4 linked regions of the Homo sapiens genome follow. The protein of the gene in region 3 purifies or fractionates together with the protein of the main gene of each other region. This does not show direct contact. Each region holds a gene or a part of one and is shown on either strand. Other genes may lie near its edges.

Region 1 (7,528 bases), on a different chromosome or scaffold from region 3:
CCCAAACACAGTCAGTGTCAGAATCGGGCCGTTCAGGAATGGAGTGTGCAGCAGGTTTCTCACTGGTTAATGAGCCTAAATCTGGAGCAGTATGTATCTGAATTCAGTGCCCAAAACATCACTGGAGAACAGCTCCTGCAGTTGGATGGAAATAAACTTAAGGTAAAGAATTATATGTCTGTCTTAGGTTACCAGGTATAATTTGTATTACTCATATCACCTAAAATGTTTTCATTAGGTAAGAGCATTCTGCATATCTGAGAGGTAATTCTCATCAATATTCAGCAGAAAGGATGTTGAATTCTTTCTGAGTAGTAAATGAAGTCTCAGAAAGTCCATCAGGGGTTCCAAATCAAATGGTAGGCTGCTGATTAGGAGAGTGAGGGACCCACTCCATTGCTTCCACCTGGCAACACATGGTCCATATATTAACTCTCCTTACATCTGATGTAGTATGAGTTTTAATAATGGCCACTGTGGACTTTTTCATCACATTAGAATTAAGACCCAGATCCACGAGTCTTCTTTTCCTTGTTCATTTCTCCTTCACCTCCACTCTTCCTTACACACCACTCCCAAACTGGGATGATGTTCTCCCCAGAAGTTTTTTCCCCAAATATGTACACACATCTTCCCTCCCCTCCATGGCACTTTCATTTCCACTTGTCCAGTCCATCTCTCTTAGAGACCAAGGTGGCATCCATCCCTTTGGGAAAGGGAAAAAGGTGCTTACAGCCAACTCCATGTACCCCCAAGCCCCACCCCCGCCTCAGCCCCCTGCTGGGCTGACGGGCAGACGAGTATCTCTTGACAATCTTGAAAAGGTTAGAGATCAATCAATAGCTTGTGAATATGAAGGCCTCATTGACAAGGCTGTCCCTGTTGGGGAGATAGATAGATGCATCCTGCTGTTGATTCTGAAGGTCACGAAACATTTAAAGTACATAAGCAACTCCCCTTATTCTGAATTCTAAGTTCATCGAGCAACCTCCTCATTATAATCAACTTCCTTTATAGGTCTGCCTACAGGGAAAGAATGGCTAGTCATGCTGACACGAGCATTCTGGCCCCAAAGACATTTTTGGTTCTCATTGTAATGAAAACATTGGCAGAAAGGAAGCCATTTCAATTCTTCTTGCCCTTCTTGGAGCCCTCTGTGACAGCAGGTGCTCACTCCTATGCTTTGAAAATATTGATGAGTTTAGCAATACCTTTACCCGTAAATGCCTACAGCCCAAAGGTTGGAGAAGTAGAATTGTGCCCTTTTTCCATTCATTCACCCATTAATTACTCATTTGGAAAGCATTTAATTAATGAGCTTTAGGGTATACTTTGCAAGGGACTTCAAAGAACAAAAGAAAAAATAAAGGGTAGCCCCCAGTGTGTTGGTTTTTAGCAAATGTAACTAGTTCTTCCTCTGTTCTTACCTCTTCAATGTTTGAATTAGTTTACGAACTTGGATATATGGTATGTTAACACCATCAGAGGGCTCATTGGTTTTCAAATTCAGTTTGTGTGTGTGTTTCTTTCTTAGGCTCTTGGAATGACAGCATCCCAGGACCGAGCAGTGGTCAAAAAGAAACTCAAGGAAATGAAGATGTCTCTAGAGAAGGCTCGGAAGGCCCAAGAGAAAATGGAAAAACAAAGAGAAAAGCTAAGGAGAAAGGAGCAAGAGCAAATGCAGAGGAAGTCCAAAAAGACAGAAAAGATGACGTCAACTACAGCCGAGGGTGCTGGTGAGCAGTAACACATACCCTCTTACAGATGATGGAGATGCTCCAAGAGAAGTCCCCACCTCTTCCTGCCCTGCTCTCCTCCAGAGGATGAAAAAGAAACTAAATGATAAGGGTAATGCGGCTCTAGGCCGGCTGAGGAACTGTGTGTTGAATAACTGCATTTTCTGCAATAGAATGCACTCTTAATTTTAACTACTAAAATAATCCCAAGCCACCTTTGGTTCATTAACAAACCAGAGATTTCATTTAAGTAGCTGTGTTTTGCTCTTCTCTAACTTACCAACATCTTGTGTTGTGTTGGGTGTGTTTTGTCACTTGGAGAACTAGTGTGACCCCACCCAAGAGCATGACACACCCTGGTGTTGTTAATGGAGCGCCGTGAATTTTCAGTGTGGGATCCTGAAATGGCAATTGCACATGTCTGCATGGCAGAGAGCACCCTGCCATGAGATCTGAGACCAGTACTTAACTTCTAGGACTGCAACACCTACTCCAATGTGTGGGAAAGATTTGCTCTTAATTCTCAGTCTGGACAGTGAGACCACCCCGCTGTGGAAACATGGGTGCTCTGCTCTGTAGTTACCTACTAAGGGAAAAGGCAAGCAAGTCATTCTGCTTGCTAGGCATCAAAAAGAAAGAAAATAAATTATAGCTATTTGTTAACCACTGAAAAAAGCAAAAGCCTTAAGAATGTGGATGTGGGTATTACCTTGGGGTTCTGAGGGTAATATTTATCCTCTAGATACGGCTGAACAAGAAAGAAAAAAATCAGACATTAATGCAGCCATGGGATATTGGGATCTGTTGACCTTGCTACTGCTGTGTGTTCAGCATTTCAGCAACACTGGCAAACACAACACAGTTCCTCTTCCCCCTACCTAACCCAAGAAATTGAACAGGAAATTGATTTTTAAGGAAACCACCATTTTCAGGTTTCCTCTCCTGGGGAACATTCTGGCTGGTCTTCAGCCTGCCTATGTCACAATCAGGAACTCATCACATATTTTCTACTCAAGATTTCCCAGGTGGGCTCAGTTAGTATTTTAACAAATGTACTTTTAAGAAAAATAGAAATACCAGTTAGAGGAAACTGTCAGTTAACATTTTAGAGAGATTTTGAATGGTTTTTCCGAACCATTCCTTTCCATACTTCAAAGATTCTCAATTTTACAGAAAAAGTTTGTTTAAGGCAGTGCATAGGTATACTTTAGTAGTGGAGGAACTTATACTAATTTTAAGCCAGCATTAAGGATTTCCATGTTTCACCAAACTAAGTCAAGTGCAGGAGACTGGGGCAGAAGAAGGAGAAAATAAACTCGTTTTGAGAAATTTCATGTGATGAGGGTTTTTTGTTTTTTATGCTCATGTATCTGGTTCTCTTTGCTGCGTTGACTCTAAAAATGAGGTTATCCACTTTCCAAAGGACAAGTTTCAGAATAAGACTTGAGGCCACATGAATTCTTGGACAGTATTTTACTTCTTTTACTTTATGGGAATCTCTGCTCTGTTCCCAGCATCTCGTATCTTCCACTAGAAGTATTCCATATTTAGAGCCTCGGCAAGGCTTTTGAGTGTAACAGATTAAGGGAACTCCCTTGTAGCCCCATCTTGTATTTTAATAACAGTGTGATTTTTTTTTATCTGAAAATCTGAATTCAGAAATTATCTAAACTGGACATTTTTAATTCTGTTTTACCCCCAAGGCCTGTTTTCTTTTCATTGCCAGAGTATTGTCGGTTATGCGTCAGCTCTTTTGTCATTAGGTACAGACCCTTCATTCAATCCTCAGAAACGTTGACATGAAGTAACATTGTGTTTTACAGTTATCAAAGTCACCATTATGTTTTTCTGTCTGTCTTCATTAGGGGTATGATAATGAAACTGCCGTATTGGATACTCTATTAATGTCTTGAGATGTCTGGTGCTTTGTTATTTTTTCACATCATGAGAAATAAGAAGCCACTATTAATGAGTGATACAATTTGGCAAAACTTTTCAAATACTAAAACACTAAATTAGTAAAAATCTGGTAATATTAGTGCTTGCTATTGTAAATTTTTGCCATTTTTGCTTATCTTTGGGAAAAAAGTGACCTGGATCACACTGGAAGTTTCACTGTATTCAAGAGTAGAAATAGAAGGATGATTATCTTAAGTTATGTTTACACTTTGGTAATATTTGAAAATGGATGTATATACTGGAAATGTCTGTAAGTGTCTTGTTTTTGCACCTAATTTATGATCTATTATATTGCATTTTCTTAAATATCTTAGAAGTATTTTTCTTTATAACTTTGTATATTGAATGTTTAGATAAATGTCCAACTGACAATGTTATAAATCAAATTCTTATTCCTAAAATCATTTAGTATTATAAGTATTTTGATTTTTTAAGTTAAATTATAGTAATTTTAGGCCGAAGTGAGTTATTTTAACATTACCACTTAAAACGGATGAAATTGTAAAAGTCATTTGGTTTGATTGCCCCACAAAGCATAAGATGTAAACTGATTAAGGGTATGAAAGCAAAGTGAAAGACCTCAGATCTTGTGCACATTTTGTTTTCCTATTATTTCTTTTATTGACTGTAGTGCATGATACCTAATCAAGGCTCCAATGTCTTGCACAATTCCTACTTTAATGCTAGTGGTTTTCAGTGTCCTTACAATTTAACACAGAATTGTTATTTCATCAACCTTAAAAACTGCAGTTTTTATTATCAGAAAATGAACAAAAAGGGAATATCTGGTTGCTATGAACTGATTCCCTAAAGGAGAGCTCAGTATGATTCTAACAATAGCCAAAAGTGTTTTGGGGTATAGGTTATGCTTTGTTGGGAGGGAATGTGTGGTGAGGAGGCCAAGCTGCAGACAGAAAGCATTGTATGAGCTGTATCTGGGTCAGGGTTTCCCATTAAAGGATGTTAGTTTTATAACAGATTACTTTGTTTAAGACCATCTCCCTTCAAGTAACTCACAGTTTATGTAATACTAATCTCATTCTTTTTTTACCTGAATCAGGAATTTTCTGCAGAATGTTAAGTTAGGGAAGAAACCTCATTTCATCCATTCTAACACTCCTGATGAAGTCCCCCTTTAGTTTCATGACAATAAAGCTGTTCTGTGGCTATCATCCTTTAGCTGGGATTGACAATTGATTTCACACCCTCAACATCACAAGCTTTTTTTAACCCACAGCAGTTCATGATTGCAGTATGATAGGTACTAAAGCCAAACTCAGCTTTCAACTGGCACAAAATGGGACTGTCACCTTTTGCTCCATTGTTGTTGGAAACAAAGTGGCAAGAGGGAAAATGAGGAACCAGATTTACCTTTGCCACTATCTGTGACCCTGTAATCATCACTAGCCTGAAATCTTAAAATATCCCAGTCCCAAGCTACAAAAATGGTCACAGGTGGTTTGATCTAGCACCTCGGCCGTTAGAGTTTGTGCTGAAGACAAATTTGTCTGGGTTCATTGTGCACCAGAATTAGCATGTGCTTGAAAATTGCATTTTATAAAAGGGAAATGAAAATTTGCATTTATATAGATACTCTGATTCATGTTTAAGTGTTAAAGGTTATGCAGACTAAACTTCAAGAGGAGATCCAGTGTTTAACAATAGTGTTCTAGAGGATTCTAAAGGAAGCTGCCCCAGCAGCCCTGAGAGAACCATCTATACTTTGGATATGTTGTAGCCCCATCATTACACTGAGATATTTCCATTTGAGTAACTAAAGGTACTCCTGACAGAGCTGGAGATGAGGGGCATTTTGGTGGGCAGTGGTCACTAGGGTTCACGTCACCTACTTAATGCAAAGACCTTAGTGGTCTCAGAATGAAAAGGTAAAATGGAAGAGAAAAGCACAGTCCTTTCCTGTCTTTTCAAATTTACTTTTTATTAAGGATGTACCTGTGCACTATTCTAAAGCTAAGCATTTAAGGATAAAGTCCAGAAATAAAATGTCCATATTTTCTTTTCTTTTCTTTTTTTTTTTTTTTTTCTGTCATCTGTCACCCAGACTGGACTGCAGTGGTGCCATCATGTCTTACTGCAGCCTCAAACTCCTGGGCTCAAGTGGTCCTCCTGCTTCAGCTTCCCAAGTAGCTGGGACTACAGGCATGTGCCACCACCCCCAGCCAAAACATCCATATTTTCTATTAGAATGGTTTACATTATGATGGGGGATGGGGAGCTGGGGGAGGGCTGTACATTCCCAAAAGAAAGTAGTGTTATAGGAAATCCAAATGCGCTTCAGTGATTCACTCCTGAAAAGCAGCCTGGGTATGTTGGCAGATTTTGTTTGCATTTGTCTTGCGTATTTAAAGTCTCAGGAAATCTAGTCTTGGTCCAAAACACTGGAGAAAAAAATAACACCAGACAAAACACATTTGAGTAACTTGAAGTAGCAGCATAGAATAGGCCCAACTAAGAAGTTGGAGGGGCAAAGAGAAAGCCGACAGAATCAGCTTCTCCTGGAAAGTGAAAGCATCAAGTTCTATTTATGGTAGACAGAGGGTCCTTATTTGCTTGTCCGTGGTGTCTATGTGGGCCTATTGAGGGAATGGTAGTTACTTGAAGGTTCACATATGTAAGCGTGTGGACCCAGCACAGTCTGTGACCTGATTCCAGATCCTCAAGAGTGGAGAAGGAAAGAAATATGATGATTTCCTATGCTTGACCCTAACCCAACCCCAAAACTGCTAGGGATTCAACAGTGAGTAAGATGTATGCAATAAGAGAACAGATAACTTCTCAACAATGTGCATGCCGTTTGTGTAGATGTTCAGAACTACATATGTGTGAATATCACTCCCACCTTACACACGCACACACACTGCAATCACATGGCATTAAAAAATATATTGTGTATGGAACTTGGCGAGGTCAGTCAGGACCTGGAGCTGTAATCATAGCCTTATTGCCACTTCTTGCGTTGTGTATACATTGAATGGCTCATAGATTTTAAGAGATTTTTTTATTGTAAGTATTTCTACTAAATGCACTTATCCTTCTATATGTTTATATATTTTGGTAAAATTGATTTATCAGATACTTGGTATTTTAGTAAGAAAATTTCCTCAAATATTTGGCTAATGCTTTGATGTCAAGATTGCATATTGCTGAGTTGGAGCTCAGAAGAAATGTATGCAGCTAAAAATTGCACTGTGTGTTCTTGTGAATTTGCTCACAATTCTAAAATGACATAATTGGTGGCTGTGATGCTTACAGTCACTGCCTACTGGCTCTCTTATGATGAATGTTGCCATCATATGATCATTTATTTACTTTTTGTGCAAGCAATGGCATTTTGGTTGTTGCCAAAAACAACACAAGTGGTTGGGAGTGTATGTTGTTGGAAGGTGTACACTTCTGTTTCTTTCAGCTGTATTATTTATACACCCAGGTTTTCTGTTAAGGATGTAATCATTCATTCAAGAAAGAACAATTGGCAAGAAATAATTAAATTACCTTAAAAAGAATTAAGAGGCACTCCAGCCAGATAACACCTCCCAACAACATGAAATTTAGTTAGTGCTTAGTGAAATTCCTTAAATATATATGTATATGTTTTCTTCAACATTATTTAATATAACTACTGCTTTTATATTTTTTAATGGTGTTGCAACCACTTGTACACCTGCTACACCTTACTGACAAAACTGGGCAGCTGAAAATAAAAGAGAATAAATTCTATTCCACTGTAAGAAGTTGATTTCTTTTCAGCTTTCTTTGTATATCAGTAAAGAACACGAATTGTTTGAAAATAATTTTAAGTCTGATAAGTATGG
Region 2 (7,528 bases), on a different chromosome or scaffold from region 3:
ATCCTTGACTGAGGCAGGAAGATGACCTGAACCCAGGAGTTGGAGTCTGCAGTGAGCTAGGATCATGCCACATGCACTGCACTCCAGCCTGGTTGACAGAATGAGACCCCATCTCTTAAAAAAAAAAACCAAAAAACAAAAAAAAAAAAAACAAAACAAAAAACTTGACACTTGAAATGAAAGAAAGTCATGTTTTGAGCAGCATAGAGTTAGAACATTCTTTTTTTTCCTAATATTGGATTATAAAACATTTTAAAACATAGCAAATTCGAAAACAATTCATATAGTGACGATTTTGAGTCATGAACTTTCACTTTACTTGCTTTCTCACATAAGGGTGCCTCTATGCATCCCACACCCATCCACTAATCCATCTTATATTTTTGACACATCTCAAAGTAAAATGGGCATGTAGTGCACTTCCCCCACACACTTCAGCATCACATTATTCATCAGAGTTCAACATGTGTTTACAGATTTTCTTCTTTTGAGTCAAGTTAAGATACAATGAAATGCGCTAGTCTTAAGTGTAGACTCACCAGTTCTGACAAATGCAGACACCTACGTAACCCAAGCCCTTGTTGGGTGATATAAAGCATTCCTAAAACATCTCTAATGATGAGATCCAATCAGCAAAAGGGGACTGGTCTCTGTACTCGTTAAGCCTCTAGCGTCAGCTAATATTCCAAGTAGAGGGAAACGGGAAGCTGTCATGATTCAGTGCCAAAAGGGCAAGGACTGACACTGAGTGTTGGGAAGTTACATGCAGGAGAGGTCAGCCTGGCCTGAGATGTCTCGTTCCATATGTGGAGAATGGACAGGAGGTACCAGTGCATGAAGTGAATAAACGTATGCAAAAAGGACATCACTTTCAGTAACTTCTAGCTGCAGAATCACGATCAGCAATTAAAGGTCACCTTCACAAGGCCCTTCCTAAGAGGCTGGGTTCTTCTACTTGTCTCAATCTGAAGGAAACTGAGGCAGAAAAAGTATATTTGGATAGTACATTTATTATATTGAAAATCTGCCCCTATATCCCAACACCCTCCATCTTACAACCTTGACGTGCAGTAAGTAGGATTAACACTATTAGATGATATTTACCTTGCAGCTCGCAGCTATACAAGCTGTGCACTGAACAACTACAGGGAGCACCATTCACATGAGCATTGAGATGACTGAGCTATTTGGAATTATTCAGTGGCTTGTCCAAGTCACACAATTGTTAAGTGAGATAACTAGCTAGAACCCTGACTTCTGATGCAAACACCGGTGTGGTGTTTTTAATCAAACCCTCTACTCAATCATTCCTTATCTTTGAACTGAAATTTGCAGCTTAGTCACGGAACATTTTTATTCACCTCTCAATAGCCCTCTGAGGTTTATTGATGAAAAAAATTATTGCAGATATAAACATAATTTTCTGTATTTTTGTATTTCACATATTACAGTGAGGGAGGCAGATCCCATTTGCAGATGTGGGACCAGACTTAACTCTTTCACATGCAAATGTGAAACTTTTGTGTTTTGCTGCAGTTGATCAATGGTCATTTGTGCCTCACTGCAATGACTGTGAAACCCATCTACCATTTGTGTAGAAGCTTGCAACTGGAAACCCAGCATGCCCACTTTTTATCACAAACTGAAAGTAAACATGTGTGACAAGAACCCCTTCATAGGACTCCAGAGGGAAACTTTTGCCGCCCCGCAATCCCAGGCTAGACATTTCTTCCTGCAGATTTTCATCCATATCTTTGGCCCTGGCAGGAATCTGATGAGTGATTTCTGTGCAGCTTCAGCTCAGCTGAGGACACTTAACAAAGTCATATGTGTGACAAAACCCAGCTGCTTCAACTGGAAATGAGTTTGGCAGCAATGGTCCGGAACACCAATAAATTGAATACCCAAGAGCTAAAGGTCATCCTGCCCCCAGAACCAGTGCTGCAGCTAACAAAGGACAAACAAAGGATAGCACAGTGCTTCACAGCCTGGGCTCAGAAGTCAGAGTGCAGGAGCATGGCAAGAGGCACTGCACGTTGTGTGACCTTGGGCAAGGAACTTAACCTCACTGAGCCTCAGGTTCCTTTACTTTACAATTGGGAAACAAGTATTACCTCGTGGGGTAGTTGTGAGTTGTGTGAGGAGTTAGTGGAATAATGTCCCTGGAATACTTAGCACAGTGCCCGGCCTGGGATGGTCTTCAGTAAATATTGGTCATTTTCGTTATTCTTCCAACACTTATCTATATTGAAAATCCAGAATCAAAATGCCTATATCAGGAGGATTGCTTGAGATCAGGAGGATCGCTTGATTGCAGGAGTTTGAGGCTACAGTGAGCTGACTGAGCCACTGCACTCCAGCCTGGGCAACAAAAGGAGATCCCATCTCTAAATATAAATGAATATATATGTATATATGCTTATATGAACCTAAACTACCCTAGAACATGGTGTTCCTACATTTTCATAAAAAACCTTGGTTTAAAAAAGGTTGTTTAAAACAATGGTTCTTGGCTGGGTGCAGTGGCTCATGCCTGTAATCCCAACACTTTGGGAGGCTGAGGTGGGCGGATCATTTGAGGTCAGGAGTTTGAAAGAGCCTGGCCAACATGGCGAAACCCTGCCTCTACTAAAAATTAAAAAAAAAAAAATTAGCCAGGCATGGTGATGCACGCCTGTAATCCCAACTACTGGGGAGGCTGAAGCAGGAGAATCACTTGAACCTGGGAGGCAGAGGTTGCAGTGAGCTAAGATGGCACCACTGCACTCCAGCCTGGGCGACAGAGTGAGACTCCACCTCAAAAACAAACGAAAAAACAAAACAATGACTCTCAAATTTGAACGTGCATAAAAATACCTGAGCTCATTAAAAGAGATCGTGAGGCATCACCTCCAGACTTTCCAATTCGGAAGGTCCAGGGCAGGGCCTAAGAATTTGCATATCTAACAATTCCAAAGCAATGCTGATGCTGTTGTTCCAACTGCTTGTTGAAAACCACTGTTGAGAATTTTTTTCTACTCTGTGGCAAACCAGGGAATTCTCTGTTTACATCAAGGTAATTTGATTAACACCTACTCATGAATACAAGTAGAAATTTGTTTAATACCTACTCATGACCTCACTTCCTGGGTATCCGCTCTCCTGGTATTTACTCACGCACATGCGCACTCACACACACCTTCCCTGTCCATAATTATCAAGTGGTGAAGGAGCGCTGAAGGGGTCAGGTGTTCTTACTCTTCCTCTCAGTGACCTACCTGACCCTGGTCCAATTTCTGAGCTGCCATGTGTAATGACCCTAATGGCATTGTAAATTGTGTCATTAATATTGCGGGAAGAGAAAGCTTGTTAAGGGACAAAGTTGTTTCACATGCCACAAAATTCCCAAACAAAGCATATTCTTAAGCAGATTCACATACAGCATTTTACTGATATTAACTTCAAAAATAAATATATTTTTGAGTGTGGAAAAATAAACCACTCTTGTTTATAATCAAGCCACTCACCATTCACAAATCAAAGATAACAGACCACTTGGCAGCTTTTAGAGGTGAGTAACAAAATGTGTCAGGGCTGTAATTACGTATTTAAATGTGACAAGATTAATCTCAGGGCTCCCTGAATAGAACTGTCTATTTTGGGTGCCTCCACACTAGAGCTGCAGCCTCTAACTTCATGTGTTCCAGATGTTCCAGGGGGTCACAAATGTGTCATGAATTTCAACAGGGTTATACAAACACTTTAAAGCTTCATTCCACTTTATTTTTTAGAAAACAATATAATTCTCCCTGGAACTAGAAACAAAGACCTGCCAGTAAAGGTTTCCCAGTTGTGCCTGTTTAGATGACAGAAAAGAGAGGGAAGTTCACAGTGGGCTTGTTGATGTAGATGTGTCAGGGGAAGCTTCTTGGGGGTCTTGAAGGAGATCACTGGACGGAGAGTGGTGGGTGGGTGGGGTGGGGGTGGAGGGATCACCGCAGACAGAGGAAACTGTGTGTGGAAATGCAGGAGGCGTGGAAATGCAGGAGGCATGGAAATGCAGGGGCATGAAACTGTGGGCACGTGCAGCAGAGGGATCACCGCAGACAAAGGAAATTCTGTGTGGAAATGCAGGGGCCGTGAAGCTGCGGGCGCATGCAGCAGTCTGTATGTCGTCCCATTCATGCAGGAATAGAGGGAAACAGAAGAGACAGATGAACAGGCAAACGCTAGTGGGACCATGTGATGCCCCAAGTGACATGCTGGGATGAGTGGACCTTATCCTATCGGGCTTTAAAAGCAACTGTGGTAAAATACACTTAACATAAAATTACCACTTTAACCATTTTAAAGCGTATGATTCGGTAGCATTTAGTATATTCACACTATCTTGTTGCAGAATATTTTCACCACCCCAAAGGAAACCCATATACATCAGTAATCACTTCCCACTCCCCCTCTCCCCATCAGCCCCTGGCAACCATTAATCTGCTTTCTGTCTCTATAGACTTGCCTATTCTGGATATATCCTAGAGGGTTTTAAGTAGGGTAGTGACATGCTTATGTTTGCATTGTAGAAAAATGACTTAATGTCTAAGGAGAAGGCTAATTTGGAAGGGAGTCATACTGGTACAAGGAGGCAAATTAGGAGACTACCAAATCAGGTGAGAGGATGTGGGCTCATGGGAGGGATGGGGAGAAGGGGAAGGAGAAGAGGGTAGTAAGATGGAACCAATAAAATCAGTGATTAATCCGATATAAAGGTTAAGTGAGACTTTCTCTACCCATCCCCAACAAATCCTCCCCATTTCAGGCTTCTGACATGGGCAGATTTGCAAAGGTGGTGCTACTCACCAGGAAAGAGAAAAGAGCCACATGGGAGCTGCAAGTTTGGCAGGCAGAATATGTAGGATTGGTTTATTGTTTCTGCTTTCCAGTATAGAAAGATGCATACCCTCAAGAGAATCTGCTTGTTGTGGTTTCTGATTTACATGTAAGTTCTTTTCACTACTTTTATGCCATTCCACATTTACTAAATCTTATCTTTTAGTTTGCTTTCAGACACTAACTATAAGTAGAAATAACGTAAATAGCATTCAAATAAAAATATATTGAAAAGGTACTTGGGAACGAGAATAAAAAACAAGCCAAAGCTTGTTAGCAGACACTTCCTAACAAAGAATGCAATAAGTCACTTTCGAAAGAATGAAAAAACAGCAGAGATCAAGGCTGGGAGTTGCTTCAACAGCACTCAGGGAAACGATTCTTGAGGTCTCCCACTGTACACCTCTGGTGTAGCAAATGGTTATTGAATAGAATGAGAAAAGGAGCTTCTAGGTGCTTCAGGAGACCCACATGTAGCCATCATAATGGTACATATTCTAGAGCAGTTAAAACTTTTGGTGCTCCTTTACAACATCCCCAAGGGGCTTCCTATGTACACCATCTTAATCAGTTGCAACAATACTGTTTGTAATTTAGGACTTCCACTTCTGACTGTGACACAATAGCATGTACCAAACCAATCTTATTCCACAGAAAACAATAGAAGCTGAATTAAAAAGAAAATAAGCTGTTTAAAGGTATCAGAGAGCAACCAAGCCTTGAGAGAGGCCATGATCGTAGAGAAAAGGGAATCACAAGGAAGTGAGCCTAACATTTTGTGCTGCTTTTCCCTTTGGGAAATTCACCAATTTTTAAGCTTCTCTGACCAAGACGCCAAGTCAAAAGCGGCAGATAAGAGAATGAAAAGCTCATTAGTCTTACGGTGCTTGAGAGACCAAAAAACAAAAACAAAGAAAACCCCAAAAGAAACAACAACAACAAAAAATTGGAGTTGCAAGCCTGTCAAGGAGGGACAGCACTGGTAAGCACTGCAGGCTTTCCATCAGATCCGTGAAAGACAATGCCTTGGAAGTAATAACAAACCAGAAACAGGTTAGTCCTCACAAACCTTGAAATCAAGCACTGAATCAATCGTCTCAATCCCAAACTTTATCAAGGTGATATGCCTCTACTCTGTATGCCTTCTAGAAAAAATTAAATCCTTTTGGAAGAAAAATAACATTTTTCTTCATATATTTTTTGTACATTTTCTTCAACATTTAATAAAATTTAATAGGCATGACAAAGAACAAGAGCAATGACTAAAATTTAAGGAGAAAAAAAGATAACAGAGACCACAAATGATCCAGATATTAGAGTTACCAGGTACACATTTTAAAGTAACTGTGAACAAAATATGCAAGATGTTAGGTATAGAAAAATAATTCACAAGATAATTAGAATATATACAAGAGAATCAAATGGAAGTTCTTTAACTAAAAAGTTACTCATTCATTGTTCATTGAAATTAAGAACTCGATCGATGTTTTAGCAATAGATTAGGCATGCAGAAGAAACACTATATGAACTGGAAGTTAGGTCAGTAGAGGATATCCAGACTGAAGCATGGAGAATAAAGGTATGAAAATTCAAAAAAAAAAAAAAAGAAGAAGAAGACGACATGAAACCATGAAACATTTAACTTATGTTTAACTGGAATTTTAGGATAAAATGATAAGGAAGAAATGGGGCAAAAGAAACAAATAGTAACATTCAGAGATACTGACTGAAAAATTTCCAAAATTGACAAAAGTTACCAAGCCAGTTTTGAGAAGCTCTATGAATCCTAGATAGAATAAACACAAAGCAAACTAACCACATCATAGTACACATAATAGTATATTAGTAATAGTATATTACACTATAGTATGTGTATGTGCACACACACACACACACACACACACACACACACAGAGAGAATAGCATTTTGCTAAAAGCAAAGACAGAGAAAATCTTAAAAGCTGTCACAGAAAAGGAAACAGTACTTTCAGTACCTTCAAAGCAGCAAGAAAACTGACTATTCAACAGAAACAATGAAAGCTGGAAGACAGTGAAATAATATCTTGAAAGTTCTTAAATAAAATATCTGCCAACCTAGAACTTGTATAGAAATGAAGACCTTGTAAAGATATTTTCAAGGAAACAAAAAATTGGAAAAGGTTTTTGTCAGCAGACCTGCACTAAAAGAAGTACGAAAGACTGTTCTTCAGACAGAAGGAAAATTATCCGTAATGGAAACATGAAAATGCAGAGGAGAATGAACAGCAACTGAGAATTTACATATGTGAACACAAGTAAGGAGTATCAATAATTAATAATGTCTTCTGGAGTTTGAACTATGTAGAAGTTTTTCAAAAGACAGTACTTGCACAAAAAGGGTGTAAAGTGAGTTAAAGTGTTGTAAGGCAGCAGTCCCCAACCTTTCTGACACCAGGGACCAATTTTGTGGGAGACGGTTTTTCCATGCACAGTGTTGGGGAGTGGGGGATGGTTTGGGGATGACACTGTTCCACTTCAGATCATCAGGCATTAGATTCTCATGAGAAGCGCACAACTAGATCCCTCACATGCGCAGTTCACAATAGGGTTCCCCTCCTATAAGAATCTAATGCTGCCACTGATTTGACAGGAGGCGGAGCTCAGACAGTAATGCTTGCCTGCACTC
Region 3 (7,528 bases):
TGTAATCCCAGTTACTCGGGAGGCTGAGGCAGGAGAATTGCTTGAACCTGGGAGGTGGAGGTTGCAATGAACCAAGATTGTGCCATTGCACTCCAGCCTGGGCAACAGAGCAAGACTCCATCTCAAAAAAAAAAAAAAAATTAAAAATTAGCCAGACATGGTGCTGCGTGCACCCCAAGTCTCAGCTACACAGAAGGCTGAGACATGAGGATCACTTGAGCATGGGAGGTTGAGGCTGCAGTGAGCCATGTTCACACCACAAAAAGGATTTGAAGACAGTAACCTCAGCATTAAACCCCAAATGCAAGGCCTTCTGAACATGGCGTCTTGTGAGTGCACAAGGTGCATGCCCATGAAGCTGGCACTGTATAGTCTATATATAATATATGTATTGAATATATGCATATTTATGAACTACAAATATAAATAAATAGTAATAGCTCAGTCACTTGCAAACCTAGATACTTTTTTATTAAACTAGCAAGGAAGGAGTAGTTAAAGCAGACTAGAAAGTACACATAATTGTGCAGACGCCTGTACCATGTAAGCACCTCATAATACTATGTCAACTATCCTAAAGGTGAATAATAATACAAAGTTATTATAAGGTGATATAAGTAAAATATTTAGCTTAATAAATATGGGGAATATAGATATTTCTTAAAATCTTACCTCTCCCATTTCCTGTCTCAGTTGTTCAAATTCTTGTTTCTCCATTTCTAGCTTATGCTTCCGTTCCTCCTCTGTTCGTCGTTTTTCTTCTTCCATTTTTTGTTTTAATAATTCTTCAAAATTAATTTCCAGTTTTCCCGGTGTAAGAAATTCTTGAGAGATTGTCTTATACATCTCTGGGGAGTCATCATCTACTACCTATTTAAAATAATTATTTTATCACTCTGGCCAGAATTACACATACTAAAAAGGGACTATTTCTTGAAGAAACTGGGATTTCTTTTTTTTGTTTGTTTTTAGTTTTTGTTTTTGTTTTTTGAGATGGAGTTTCACTCTTATTGCCCAGGCTGGAGTGCAATGATGTGATCTCAGCTCACTACAACCTCTGCCTCCCAGATTCAAGCGATTCTCCTGCCTCAGCCTCCCAAGTAGCTGGGATTACAGGCATGCGCCACCACGCCCGGCTAATTTTGTATTTTTAGTAGAGACGGGGTTTCTCCATGTTGGTCAGGCTGGTCTCGAACTCCCGACAGGTGATCCGTCTGCCTTGGCCTCCCAAAGTGCTGGGATTACAGGCGTGAGCCACGCACCCGGCCAGATTTCTTAAATAGGTTTCACATTGAACAAAAAACAAGGGGACTTAACAGTAAACAAGGAAGTCTCAACACAGTGTTCAAAAATAAATAAATAAAAGGGAAGAATTATTAGAAAATGTAAGACCGAGGTATTTTGTGGTTATGAAGGAAATGGTAACCATCTATTCTCCATTACAGTGAAGACAAAGAAATAATTTATTCATACCATGAGTACTTTAAATTAGACATTAAGATTTCCTAATTTGAGAACATTTTTTAATTGGATTGAAACGACTCCCCAGGTTGGTAATTAAAGCATTTAAGTTAATCATGATTTTGTCTGAATGAATTAGATAACCCATCATGATCTCTTCATAATCAGGCAAAAATCATTCTTAGTGCTATGAGTTTATTGTTTATTTGCTGTCTGGCTAATTTTAAAGAAATAATAATAGTTAATACTTGGAGCTGCCAAGTGCAGTTATAAGCACGTAAAGTGTATTAATACATGTAAAATGTATTAATTTATTTAATCCTATGACCCTATGAAGTAGTTACTAATATCCTCATTTTACAGAGAAAGAAACTGAGGCACTGAAAAGTAATTGTCTAAAGTCAACACAAATACTATGTGGCAAAGCTGGGATTCAAACTTCAAAATATTTCTAATAAGATTATAGGCCGGGCACAGTGGCTCATGCCTGTAATCCCAGCACTTTGGGAGGCCAAGGCAGGTGGATCATGAGGTCAGGAGTTCGAGACCAGCCTGACTAACATGGTGAAACCCCGTCTCTACTAAAAATACAAAAATTAGCCAGGTGTGGTGGTGGGCGCCTGTAATCCCAGCTACTGGGGAGGCTGAGGCAGGAGAATCACGTGAACCCAGGAGGTGGAAGTTGCAGTGAGCCGAGATTGCACCATTGTACTCCAGCCTGGGTGACAGCGAGACTCCATCTCAAAAAAAACAAAAGATTATAGGCCGGGCGCGGTATAACATAACCCTCTGGCCTGAACTGTGACTCTGTGGTTGAAATACACACAGGGGAATGAGAGAGGCAAGGGGTATTATTCATTTGCTCCAAGTTTTATCAAGGTAATCCAGGCTTTACCACAGAACTATTTCAACTCAGAAACAATGTTTAAGTGGTTTACAATTCAAAGATTGCCTGAAATTTTTAAATTTTACATATGCATGAACTAAGCTATGGTATGAAATTACAATACTTATTCCTGGATAAATTACAATACTTATTTGTGGATAAGAAAACAATATAAATGTAAGAGGAAGGTTTTCTCTCTTCTCTTTAGAAATGTCTTTAGGAAACTTGGTTTTGTTTTAATGCAGTTTTCTCGCCTGCATTTTTTCCGCTAGTGAATCATGGTAAAAAGGCAGTATTGGCCTACAAATCTGCCCCAAGGACTAGGTCTAGTAATCTTCACAGTTACTTCTCTTCTACCGCTTCTTTTTTTTTTTTTTTTTTTTTTTTTTTTTGAGACGGAGTCTCACTCTGTCCCCCAGGCTGGAGTGCAGTGGCGAGATCTTGGCTCACTGCAAGCTCCGCCTCCCAGGTTCATGCGATTCTCCTGCCTCAGCCTCTGAGTAGCTGGGACTACAGGTGCCCGCCAACACGCCCGGCTAATTTTTTTTTTTTTTTTTTTTTTTTTTTTTTTTTGTATTTTTAGTAGAGACGGGGTTTCAACATGTTAGCCAGGATGGTCTCGATCTCCTGACCTCGTGATCCGCCCGCCTCGGCCTCCCAAAGTGCTGGGATTACAGGCGTGAGCCACCGCGCCCGGCTTCTTCTACCGCTTCTAAACCTGCTTATTCTCCAAAAATTAAGTGCATTCACAACGTCTGTAGGACTTCTATGTAGAAACCATTTATGAATCAGGGATTACCTACTGCACGTAAGATTTCAATATCACTTGTTCCATCAACATTTATTGGAGGTCTGCTACGCTAAGCATTGTGCCACATGTTTGATGAACAGTCTTGGCCTCATGGAGTGGAAAAGACAGCCATAAGTGGTAACAATACAGGATTAGCGCTATGATAGAAGAGTACTAAATGCTGTAAGAATTCATGGAAGGTGTTTATTATCAGGAAAGGCTTTCCAGAGGAAATGGAAAGTTATGAATTGGAGTTAGCAGAGCATAGGGAAAGGAGTGAGGGACATCTTTCAGACAGTGTGAAGGCTGAGTCTCACTTTGAAGAAATACAAACAAATTCAGCATATTTGGAACAAAGAGCAGATTCAGGAAGAATCAAGAAATGAAACGAGAGCAATATACAAGAGCAAGACTATAAAGAAATTTGTTTTAGAAGTTTTTGGATTTTTGCTTAAGAAAAGTGGGGAAATATTAAGCAAAACAGTAACAAAACACAATCAAAATTTCTTTCTTTTTAAAGATCACTCCTGGCCTTACAGGAAAGAATAGGTTACAGGTAAGAAAGCAAGTTAATGAGGAGTTGGCCCCAGGCAAGTTGTAACAGTAACTTGGATTATAGTAGTGGCGGTGAAAATGGGGGGAAAACTGACAGATTTCATAGTGATTTAGGAGGTAGAATAAACGAGACTTAGTGACTGGTTGGACATCAGGCATGAATAAGAAGATGGAAGTGTTTCAGGCTTCCACGTTTCTGATTTGAGTATCTGTGTGGGCAATAAAGCCAAATAAACACTTGGACATATGTGTGTGATGCTCACCCATACAGAGGAAGAAAACCAGGTTACGATATCACCAAAGCTAATTACAGTGTTTCAAGAAGGAGATGCAGTGCTCTAGTCTCAAATTGCTTCAAAATTGTTTGTCAGATAACTGTACATTGTACAAACATAAAACTGGTATAGGAAGTACAGTCATAACCTTGTGACAGTTAAGTTAGGTATCAATTTCCAGGAGTGATGAGTGAGCATTTTGAAGAGAGAAATAATTCTGATTAAATGACTCAGGTCATTTAATATATAGTAGGTGGGATGAAAACTGAAAGAAGGAAAGGAAGGAAATAAAGGAATGAAGGAGGGAGAAAGGGAGTATGGGAAGGAGGTGGCGAAAGAATGGAGAGGAAGAAAGAAAAGTTGAGGGAGGAAACTCCCTACTTCTTCTTCTTCCTTGGATACTTAGTTCTGGAAAACATGCCTTCCCAGAGAAGGGAGATAATATTCCATCCTTTGTGCCAAGCATGGCAATTTAAAGCAGAATCTTCTGAACACTAAATTGAAGCAAATACCTTCAACCAACTGGTGTTATTCCATGGGAGACTTTAAAACATATTTGCCATTTCTACTCTTGGCACAGTTTCCAGAAATAATAGGGTATTCTCTAAAGTCTAATGATTCTATTAACATATTCTCAAAGGTGAATTCTAATAGCATTCTCCAGTTAGCTTCTGTCTTACCATATTTCTCCTTGCTTCAGCAAACGCCTTCTTTTCTTCCTCTATTCTCCTTCTGGCTTCTTCTTCTGCTTTCCTTTTTTCATCTTCTCTTCTTTGCCTTTCCATTTCTTCAAAACTGAGTTTGAGTTTACCAGGGCGGTACCCTTTAAAAATTTTTGCTGTGTCTTGGTTTTCCTCATCTTCATTTACCTAACCAAATAAACAATTCATTACTAAGAATTGAGGTTCATCAGAAAAAGGAATGAATTATTAATCAAAAGGCACAGAATTAGCCACTATCACACAGGAGTTTCAATGCCCTTAATATACTTGACCTAAATCCCCTTCCTTTTTAATGTCTTCTATGATAAAATATTCAAATTTGGAGAAATTCCATATAAAGATGTACTCAGGTTAAATAAAACTTCTCAAATAAGCCAAATTTCTATAGATAAAATTGAATATTAAAACATTTTTAGCCAGGTGTTGTGGCGGCTCACGCCTGTAATTCCAGAACTTTAGGAGGCAGGAGGATCACTTGAACCCAGGAGTTCAAGACCAGCCTGGGCAACATAGCAAGACTTCGTCTCTACTAAAAACCAAAAAACACATTATAGCCAGTGTGGTGGTGTGTGCCTGTAGTCCCAGCTACTCGAGAAGCTGAGGTGGGAGGATCCCTTGAGCCCAGTAGGTTGAGGCTGCAGTGAGGGGTTACTGTTGAGTATTAACTTTCCCAGAACAAATATAAAATGCGTATGTGTGTACTATAATTGGGGTTCAAGTATATCTACACAGAATCTCTTTGGTAGTAAAATAATGTTCTCATTTTGTAATTTTTGTATTTTTTTTTTTACTGTGAACTATGGTACCTTATACTAATCAGATAAAAGATTATTATCTAGAACTATTTTATGTAAAATTCCAGCTTTATGATTTTATCATTAAAGGTTTATTATTAAATTTACTATAATATCAATTGAAATGTATTATTTATTTAACAATACTATTTCTTTATTAAGTTGACCACCAGAAATATCTAAAATGTGCAGATATTATGCAGCTATACCCGAGTAATAACATTTTCAAATAAATGTCTAGAAAATTAAATTTTTATATATATAATTCTTAGAACATCATTCAAGAAAGCTGATCAAGAAAGTTCTGTAACTTTAAAATTACAAATATTCCATTTTTAGATCCTTTTTTTTTTTTTTTGAGACAGGGTCTCACTCTGTCACCCAGGCTGGAGTCCAGTGGCTCATTCATAGTTCGCCGTAGCCTTGATTTCCCGGGCTCAAGCAATCCTCTCGCCTCAGCACCCGGGGAGCTTGGACTACAGGTCTGTGCCACCACACCTGGCTAATTTTTGTATTTGTTTTTGTAGAGACATGGTTTCCACATGTTGCTCAGGCTGGTCTCAAACTCCTGGGCTCAAGGGATCTGCCTGCCTCAGCCTTCCAAAGTGCTGAGATTACAGGCATGGCCACCATGCCTGGCGCATTTTTAAATCTTAAAACGAGGTTTGGAATCAGTGTTTTCTTATTTCAGTTTTACTTTCTGTTGATAAATCTATTAATACCATAGTAATAATTAACATTTTCAAAGAACTTAGTATATGTAACAAACACCATTTTAAGTGCTTCCTAGATATTAACTTGTTTAACCATTTAAGAAATAGGCATTGAAAAAAAATCCAAGTCATTGTGGAAGTTAAAAAAAAAAAGAAGTAGGCGCTTTCATTTTTACCATTTTAAAAATGAAGAAACTAAGAGAGATTTAATTAATTAACACAGCGAGAGATTAAAACAGTTGTCCATGGTTACACAGTTAGTAAATGGCTGATATCTGAATCTAGACAATCTGGCCCCACAATCCATGCTCTTAACCACACTACACACACACACACACACACACACACACACAGACACACACACACAGAGGCATGCACACAAATATGCACACACATACACTTAATAGGACAAACTGCATATTCCACCGTAAACTGTTATTTTGATATGTTCAAACAGTTGAAAAACTGGACTGCTGAGGACAAGTTTACACTTATAATCAGTCCCGCACCCATGTCATTAAGTACTTTGCAGATTGAACTAACAGATGAAGGAAACCAGGTTCATTGAGTAATTATTTTGCATATTTATACATTAATAACAATGTATAAAAATAAAAATTTAAAGCATATTGGGTAAAATGCCCCAGAGTGAAAACTGGAAAACAGTATGGATTTTTTTTTTTGAGACAGTCTCATTCTGTTACCCAGGCTGGAGTGCAATGGCGTGATCTCAGCTCACTGCAACCTCCATCGCCTAAGTTCAAGTGATTCTCGTGCCTTAGCCTCCCAAGCAGCTGGGATTACAGGGATTTCACAGTGTTGGCCAGGCTGGTTTCAAACTCCTGACCTCAGGTGATCTACCCACCTTGGCCTCCCAAAGTGCTGGGATTACAGCATGAGCCACCGTGCCTAGCCTAGATGTATTTTATATATGAAATATGAATACAATTAGAAAATCAGCCCTTCTATATGTAAAATCTCTTTGAATTTGTAGTAGTAAACCTTATCTTAAGTCGGCTAACTTCATTAATATTAATTGTAAGGTTTAAATATGTAGATTTACCATTTGCCGCCTTGCTTCTTCAAAAGCACGCTTCTCTTCTTCTAAACGTTTTCTTGCTTCCTCTTCAGCTTGCTTCTTTCGGTTTTCTTGTCTTTGTCGCTCCAGTTCTTCAAAAGTTAGTTTCAATTTTCCGGGAGAAAGTGATTCTTTTTTTGCTTCACTTTCTATTTCATCATCCTAAGAAAACGTTATGAAAACCCACCTTTTAGTCATAAAGGAAAATGCTGCTAACTTAAACTGCCTTGATTTGTTTCTTAGAAAACAAACAA
Region 4 (7,528 bases), on a different chromosome or scaffold from region 3:
ATCTTTGTGTCATTCAGAGTAGAGTCCCACCTTGGGGCTTCTGAGCCTCTTTTTATTGCCTACAAAGTTCTTCCATCCTCCTCATTCTTTAACACCAACTCATCCTTCAGGCAGCTGTGTGAATGTTTATTTCCTAAGTCAGGCTCTCCTTGTACCCCAATCTAAATTTCCCTCTCTCCGCCTTTCTGTTTCTCACAGCCCCCTGTCCTTTTCCTTCACAGTATCGATGCTAATCCACGAATACATATTTATCCGTGTCCATTTCCACAATGTCTCTTCCCCTTCACATTCATGAGAGCAGAAACCACATCTGTTTTGTTCAACATTAAAGATTCAGTACAGGATGGGTGTAGTGCCTCATACCTGTAATCCTAACACTTCAAGAGGCTGAGGAGGGAGGATCACTTGAGGCCAGGAGTTCAAGACCAGCCTGGGCAACATAGAAAGACCCCGTCTCCACAAAAAAATGTAAAAAATGAGTGGGGTGTGGAGATGCTGCCTGTAGTCCTAGCTGCTTGGGAGGTGGAGACAGGAGGATCACTTGTGCCCAGGAGTTCGATCCTGCAGTGAGCTATGTTCACACCACTGTACTCCGGCCTGAGCAACAAAGAGAGACCCTGTCTCTAAAACAAAAACAAAAACAAAAACACAGTACCTAGTACGGTGCCTGAAACATACTAGGCACCTAAACATTTGATGAGTTAATAAATGAACACATTAAATAACTAAAAGTCACCCCTTCCTTACTTCTAAAAGTACTGCATATAATTTTTAAATTAGGTCAGGTGTGGTGACTTACACCTGTAATCCCAGCACTTGGGAAACCAAGGCAGGAGAACTGATTGAGGCCAGGAGCCTGGGACCAATGAGACATCACCTCTACAAAAAATTTAAAAATTAGTTGGGCATGGAGGCGCACACCAATAGTCCTAGTTACTTGGGAAGCTGAGGTGGGAGGCTCATTTGAGTCCAGGAGTATGAGGCTGCACCGAGCTACGATCATGCCATTGCATTCCAGCCTATGCAACAGAGCCAGACTTGTCTCTAAAAAAAAAAAAGAGGCCGGGCGCGGTGGCTCACGCCTGTAATCCTAGCACTTTGGGAGGCCAAGGTGGGTGGATCACCTGAGGTCAGGAGTTCGAGATCAGTCTCAACATGGAGAAACCCCATCTCTGCCAAAAATACAAAATTAGCCAGGCGTGGTGGTTGCATGCCTGTAATCCCAGCTACTCGGGAGGCTGAGGCAGGAGAATTGCTTGAACCTGGGAGGTGGAGGTTGCAGTGAGCCAAGATTATGCCACTGCACTCCAGCCTGGGCAGCAAGAGCGAAACTCTGTCTCAAAAAATAAATAAATAAATAAAAATAAAGTGAATTATGACATTTTCAATAAAGGCTAAGTTATTTTATGCTGTATTGGAAAAGCCACCCAACTGCAGGCTCCCACAGCAAACACAGGTTTAGATGTGAACTTGATCAATCAAGAACTATTTATAAACAAATACAAAATCAATCCCTTTCTTGTACACCAGCAACACTAACCAGAAATGTACTAAATCATTCATTCAAAATGACCACAGAAACCATGAAGCACCTTGGCACAAATCTAACAAGCGGTATGAAAGAGTTTTACATACAAAATGATAAAAATTTCATTGAAGGACATAAAAGAACTATTAAAGAAGCTTATGAGGTTTGTGGATGGGAAGCCATTAAACCATAAAGATGTCAATTCTCCCTGAATTTCTATTTAAATGCAACACAATTTCAGTAACACAAAATTAAAGAAAAAAGCCCCACAAGCAACAAGCTTGTTGAACATATGTGCAAGCTAACCTGTGGGGGGAAACAGAGGAGAATGTGATGTGCATGTGATGTGTCAACTGACGCAAATATGGAAAATGGAATTTTGTGGGAATTCCAATAATTTAACCATATGAATGTGTAAGGTTACTTTCAACATTTCATTGTGCTTCAAATATTTTCTTTTTTTTTTTTAAGTTGTGAAACAGTTAAGTTCAGAAGAACAAGCGCAACCTGAGTCTGGGAAAACTGACAGAGAAGACAGGCACAAAGCTGGGCACTGAAAGATGTGCCAGTGTGATAGGGGAGAGGGGCTTCTGGGGGGAAGGAACGATCCAGAACAACAAGGTAAAAGCACAAGACACAGTTGAGAGTGAACCAAGTACGGCTCACATGGAATGCACATTCCCACAGGAAGCCAGGCAGTGACAGAACCTAAAAAGCTACAGTGAAGTGACTATAGCAGTGTTATCTACGAAATGATCCCCCCAAAACGTGGTACAATGGTGACATAAGTTGGGACAAGTGAATACTGTATCTTTCTCTTGGGAATTCACAGTACACAGTCACAAATGAAGGCCAGGAGAAGTCTTTCTGCAAAGAAACTTAACCAGCTATTCTAACATGTACCTGGCCAAGGAACCCTTTTTACAGGAACATTTACCAACTTTATGGGTAGGGTATTTTTTTGTTTTTTGTTTTTTTTTCCAACTTACTAATTTTTTATGGAACAACTCACTTTGGGTAACACTATACTCCAGTAACTCAGCCTTTTAAAGGTCTGAACCAGAATGAGGGCTTGAGGATTTGCAAAGGGCAAAAGATAGGGGAGAACAATAAATCAGACATAGTGACTGACAGGAGGAATGTAAGGGTCACAGAAAATGGGGAAGTAGGTGATGCTCTAGAATCCAAAGTCAAGATGGTGATGAAAAGGCTATTAGCACAAACAGTGAAGTGAAGTCCACAGGGGACCAAGTATTAGGTAAGAGGTAATAAATTTAGATTTCGACAGGTTTGGAGAGACGGATATCTCCCTAGAAAGAAAACTAAGCAAGAGGTTACAACTTGGAGTCAGTTTCTCAGATCCGTCCCCTGTTAAATTTAGGAGCTGAGCAGGTCTCAAGCACAATGAAGGGGTTACAGTGGTGACCTTTAAGACACTTTTCAATAGCAACATTCTGCCATTCCAAAAATTGAAAATTTGAAATAAAAATACCAATATAATCAAGTTCTATCTTTAAAGTGTGAATTGTGTGAATGCAGGATAAAAATAAACAATTCAAGATGAATTTCAGTACATGGATAAGAGGTTTTTAAGAGATCATGTAATTACAGATACTCAAGAGACATCTATGAACCTTTACAAAGCTGACATCAGGAGTCTAACTCTATTTTCCTTCCTGAATGTCACAGAATACCTGCAGAGTACTACGGCAAATAAGCCCTGAACCTGACCAACGTGGCAGTTCATACATTTTTATGAATAGCTCTCAACACTTTGAAAATTTCAGGCAAGCGAGAACTTTTTCATAGATGGCTCACTATATCAGGGGTAGCTCAAAACTGTGATCTACCGATTATGACTAGAAGCAGATAATATGAGGATCACAAAAATAACAAGCCATGCAAATTGGCATAGGCCCAATGTCTATGAAAATTAAGCTTTTCCTTAAAGCATTTAGACTGTGGGTCTAAAATGAATAAAACAGTGACCAATCACTCTGAAGTACTTTTAAGGGAAAAAATGATCAGTTAGGAAGCTAGTATATTTGCAATCTGAACATCACAAATAGCAATTCAGGATCTAATATAAAATGTAAAGCAAAGCAGCAATGATGGAGAGAGAAGGTGTACACTGGAAAATGTTAAGTGGGACCAGCAGGAATCTTGCAATTAAGATTCTTTGTGTATTTTGGGGGAGCTTTTTGTTGTGGTTGCAATGTGAAAATGCTTTCATGTAACCAGTGAAAATTAAGTAGGCAAATGACGTGTAAATGTATTATAATGTCGATAACTAATAATCTGTTCCACTGTCCTTTCAATTCAATTTTCTAAAAAGTCTTTAAAGATATTGCATTCTTTTTTTAAACAAATTTAAAAACCTGTAATGTACAATTCTGAAATACATTACTATATTTTCATTTTAACACAGCGAACTTAAGCCATCTGTGCAATCTTAAAGCATCTTGAGTCCAGGAAGAATTGGACTGAAAGTCCCCGGAAGGCAGAGATTTGGTTTCCTCTTAAGCCTCTCTTAAGCTATCAAGGAAAGACAGGCCCCTTGCATTTTCAGAAACTTATCAGGTGCTTATCTGATAAGCAAAAGAAGAATGTCAATTTTTACTTTTCTGCTATTTATAAAACTGCCTATCTTGGAAGAGTACAAATTTCACCCCAACTCTCTTCCCAAAACCCAGCTCTGCAATGGCATCCACACCGCTTATTCTCACACATCAAAGATCTGAGCGAGCTCCAGGACTGGATGCCCTGTGGCATGCTGCTCGCAGGCAGACTGGAGACCAGAGATCAGACAAACGCCCTGAAACTCCCAGATGACAATCTATTCCTGAAGATAAAGGCATGGCCAGCAAGGGGGTAAGAAAAGGGACTGGCTATTCAGTCTCTCACTAGCAGGCTGAATCTTGTCTCCCTCAGCTGGGGAAGGAGAATGACGCAGGACTGGGAAGCCAAAACACCCAGAAAAGGATAAACTGAGAAGCAGTTCAACCAATTCTCCTAGCTTTGGACCAGCCAAGGACACCTACAGGAATCCTGACTTCAGGTGACAAAGGAAACAAGCCAGGAAGGAGAGGGACAACAGCTGGGCTCTCCCTCTAACTCCTTAAAAAGAACTCCTTAAAAGTGACCAAAGCATCAAAGTACTCACCCAAAGAATCAAAGTTTTTGCCCAAAGCTCCACAGTACTCATTCAAAGCTTCACAGTACACTCTACCTGGTGGCACTTCGTTGTTCTGGAAAGCAAAGGGGTCTTTGAGGCTTGACCTCTGGGCTAGTGACTCAATTCCCTCATCTACAAATACCTCCTACTAAGGGATAGTGATGAGAAGGAAATCAACCTACAGAAAGTACCCAGCATGAGGCCTAGCACAAAGCAAGCACCCAATACTTAATAAACAGTAGCATGAATAATATCATATAACTCAATGTGAATGACTCATTCTTTGGAGATTTGGCATGTCTTGTCCACAAGAGCCTTTTAAAATGCAAATATGCCTGAAGTCTATTAACAGCCTTAGTTGACAGCCACATTGAACACAGGATGAGGAAGGGATGCTGGCAGGTGTGTAGAGAAGAGAGTTGGCGGAGGTACCAAGGACCTGCCATGCACCAGGGAAGACACTGCTATTCAAACCTTCTCGCATAGAATGGTAGTTTATATATCATTTTTTGGACCTCAGTCAGGGTTCTGAACCTGAACGCTTTCACATCATTGGAGATTGGAGGAAATAAAACCTAAGTCAGAGAAGCTGGCACCTGTGTTCAGTTTTCTTCCACTCTCTTGCTTCTGTTTGTTCTCAGCTTTTGTCTCAAAAGCAAGTGTTCCCCTGGTCTTGGTCACTACAGCTGTCATAGCCATTTTCTTCATTTCACCAACATCCACTCTTGGGATGCATCCACCTGCCCTGCTACAACGACCCTGAAAGCACAATGGATTTCCTTTCTTCCTTTTAAAATGGGTCTAATGCATTGTCTTGCATGACCTGTGTGCTTAATAAAATATGAACTGATGAGGAAGAGGCTGACAACTGCAAAGACCTACCAAAGGCTGTAAGAGTGTAATGCTGGGAAGCATCCTTTTTCCTCCTCTATGCTGCTTATGGTAAGTTGGAAGGTGCTCACCTGTTAGAGTTTAGCAAACCATGTGTCTGCCTCTCCTCCAGAGGCAAAAGTCTAAAATAGCCAGTGGAGGAGAATTTCATAGCCTGAGGAGACTAAAGTTACTCTCACCTATACCACAGAACTTGAAGACCCCAAATGGTGTCCTAGCTTGAAATAAATAAACAAGGCAGAACTTCCAGTCTTCAAATTCTTATCTTAGAAACAACAACAACAACAAAAACCTAATATTGACTTTTCCATTTGCCCAGGAGCATTCTGAGGAATCCACAAACAATCCATGATGCCAAGTGTTAAACTCCAGTCTGCTCCTGTACTTGGTGTCAAAGTCTGGTACCTCTTGCCCAGTGCCACTCTCAGTGCCACCCTAAGGACAGATACCACTGCTATTCCCTTTTCATGCAGATGCCTAAACTAGTTCACTTCCCCTGTGGGGAAGGGATGAGCACAAAAATCATGTGGAATGAGTGTTCCCACAGAGCTCAGAAATTTGATGATCTCAGAGGATACTGTAAAGAAAGACCCTTGACACTTCCCTAAGGAAGAATGCCTTCTGTAAAAGGCTACTGCCAGGACAAAAAGCATGTGCTGGGAAAAATCTATGGCCTGCTGCTGCGAGTGTTTCCAATTCTGATGTCCCACTTCCTCTTTATAAGCACATTCCTTCCCTCCTTATTTCTCTTCTTAAAAAGACACTCTGGCATCGGGTCTCAGTTAAGAAGCAAAGTGCAATGTTCTATTAAAGGCTGTAAGATAAAAAGGGCTTAAAATGGATTTCAATAAACATAAAAGCCTTGAGTGCAATATAAGATCTACTCTGTTCTACCACTTTTAAATGTTTCGAAAAAAGAACTTATTTTTAAATGTTGGCAACCTAACTTTTTAAAAGTAAAGTTTCATTCACTTACAGCTTATTCATACAGGCCATAACATACAGCTCTTTAGCAATACAGTTCTAAGAGTTGTAATGTCCTAACCTGGGCTTCCAAACCTATCTCACAGTGGTTTTTGGAAGAATCAACTACAATAATAGACGTGAAAGTAATTTGACATCTGCCAGGGGCTAACCAACTAGATAATCAAACTGTTGTTATTATTAAAATACATCATACCATACAGTATATACCTAAAGAGTATGGACTTTGGGATCCCCAATCGCACTTCCACCACTTAGTAGTTAGCTACACAAGCACAGAGGGTCCTCAATTTACAATGGTTCAACTTAGGATTTTTTTACTCTATAATGGTGCAAAAATGATAGGCATTCAGTGGAAATCATACTTAGAATTTTGAATTGTGATGTTTTCTGGGGCTAGCCACATGTAGTACGATACCCCATCACAATGCTGGGCAGTGGCAGCGAGCCGCAGCTCCCAGTCAGCTACACCATCACAAGGATGAACAACCAATACTCTACAGTGGACTGTGTTACCAGACGATTTTGCCCAACTGTAGGCTAATGTGACTGTTCTGGACACATTTAAGGTTCGGTAGATTAAGTGTATTAAATGCATTTTCAACTTACAATATTTTCAACTTATGATGGGTTTATCAGGACATAACCCCATTGTAAATCTAGGAGCATCTGTACGGTGTAAGGGGCAAGTTACTTAACTCCTCCAGGCCTCAGTTTCCACTGGAAAATGAAGATAACACCCACTTTATCAAGTTGTTGTGATGATGAATATAGTAATGTATGTAAAATTCTTGGCATGTAATGAACACATACTAAATGATAGCTATAATTATTGTTAGGCTATTTAATTAAAATCCAAATGTTCAGCTATTGAAAACAGTAGAAGGGAGGTAGAAGACAATCTTACCCAAAGGAGGACAAATGCTAAAAACATGGATGCTACATGCTGA

What was found.
Region 1: the proteins of NEXN (region 3) and PPP1R9A purify together in Homo sapiens (affinity purification with mass spectrometry; 2 studies listed by BioGRID and IntAct, with this or other methods). This does not show direct contact.
Region 2: the proteins of NEXN (region 3) and CPVL purify together in Homo sapiens (affinity purification with mass spectrometry; 3 studies listed by BioGRID and IntAct, with this or other methods). This does not show direct contact.
Region 4: the proteins of NEXN (region 3) and MYO1B purify together in Homo sapiens (affinity purification with mass spectrometry; 2 studies listed by BioGRID and IntAct, with this or other methods). This does not show direct contact.

The regions. Positions count from the first base shown.
Region 1 is NC_000007.14:95,288,557-95,296,084, forward strand, and holds part of PPP1R9A (neurabin-1), read left to right. Parts: coding exon 1-162; intron 163-1,534; coding exon 1,535-1,747; 3' UTR 1,748-7,528. UniProt on the Homo sapiens protein: Binds to actin filaments (F-actin) and shows cross-linking activity. Binds along the sides of the F-actin. May be involved in neurite formation. Inhibits protein phosphatase 1-alpha activity.
Region 2 is NC_000007.14:28,996,413-29,003,940, forward strand, and holds part of CPVL (probable serine carboxypeptidase CPVL isoform b precursor), read right to left. Parts: intron 4,973-7,528; exon of another isoform or gene 4,917-4,972; intron 4,644-4,916; exon of another isoform or gene 4,557-4,643; intron 1-4,556. UniProt on the Homo sapiens protein: May be involved in the digestion of phagocytosed particles in the lysosome, participation in an inflammatory protease cascade, and trimming of peptides for antigen presentation.
Region 3 is NC_000001.11:77,926,624-77,934,151, reverse strand, and holds part of NEXN (nexilin), read right to left. Parts: intron 7,437-7,528; coding exon 7,260-7,436; intron 4,837-7,259; coding exon 4,648-4,836; intron 871-4,647; coding exon 673-870; intron 1-672. UniProt on the Homo sapiens protein: Involved in regulating cell migration through association with the actin cytoskeleton. Has an essential role in the maintenance of Z line and sarcomere integrity.
Region 4 is NC_000002.12:191,248,042-191,255,569, reverse strand, and holds part of MYO1B (unconventional myosin-Ib), read right to left. Parts: intron 1-7,528. UniProt on the Homo sapiens protein: Motor protein that may participate in process critical to neuronal development and function such as cell migration, neurite outgrowth and vesicular transport.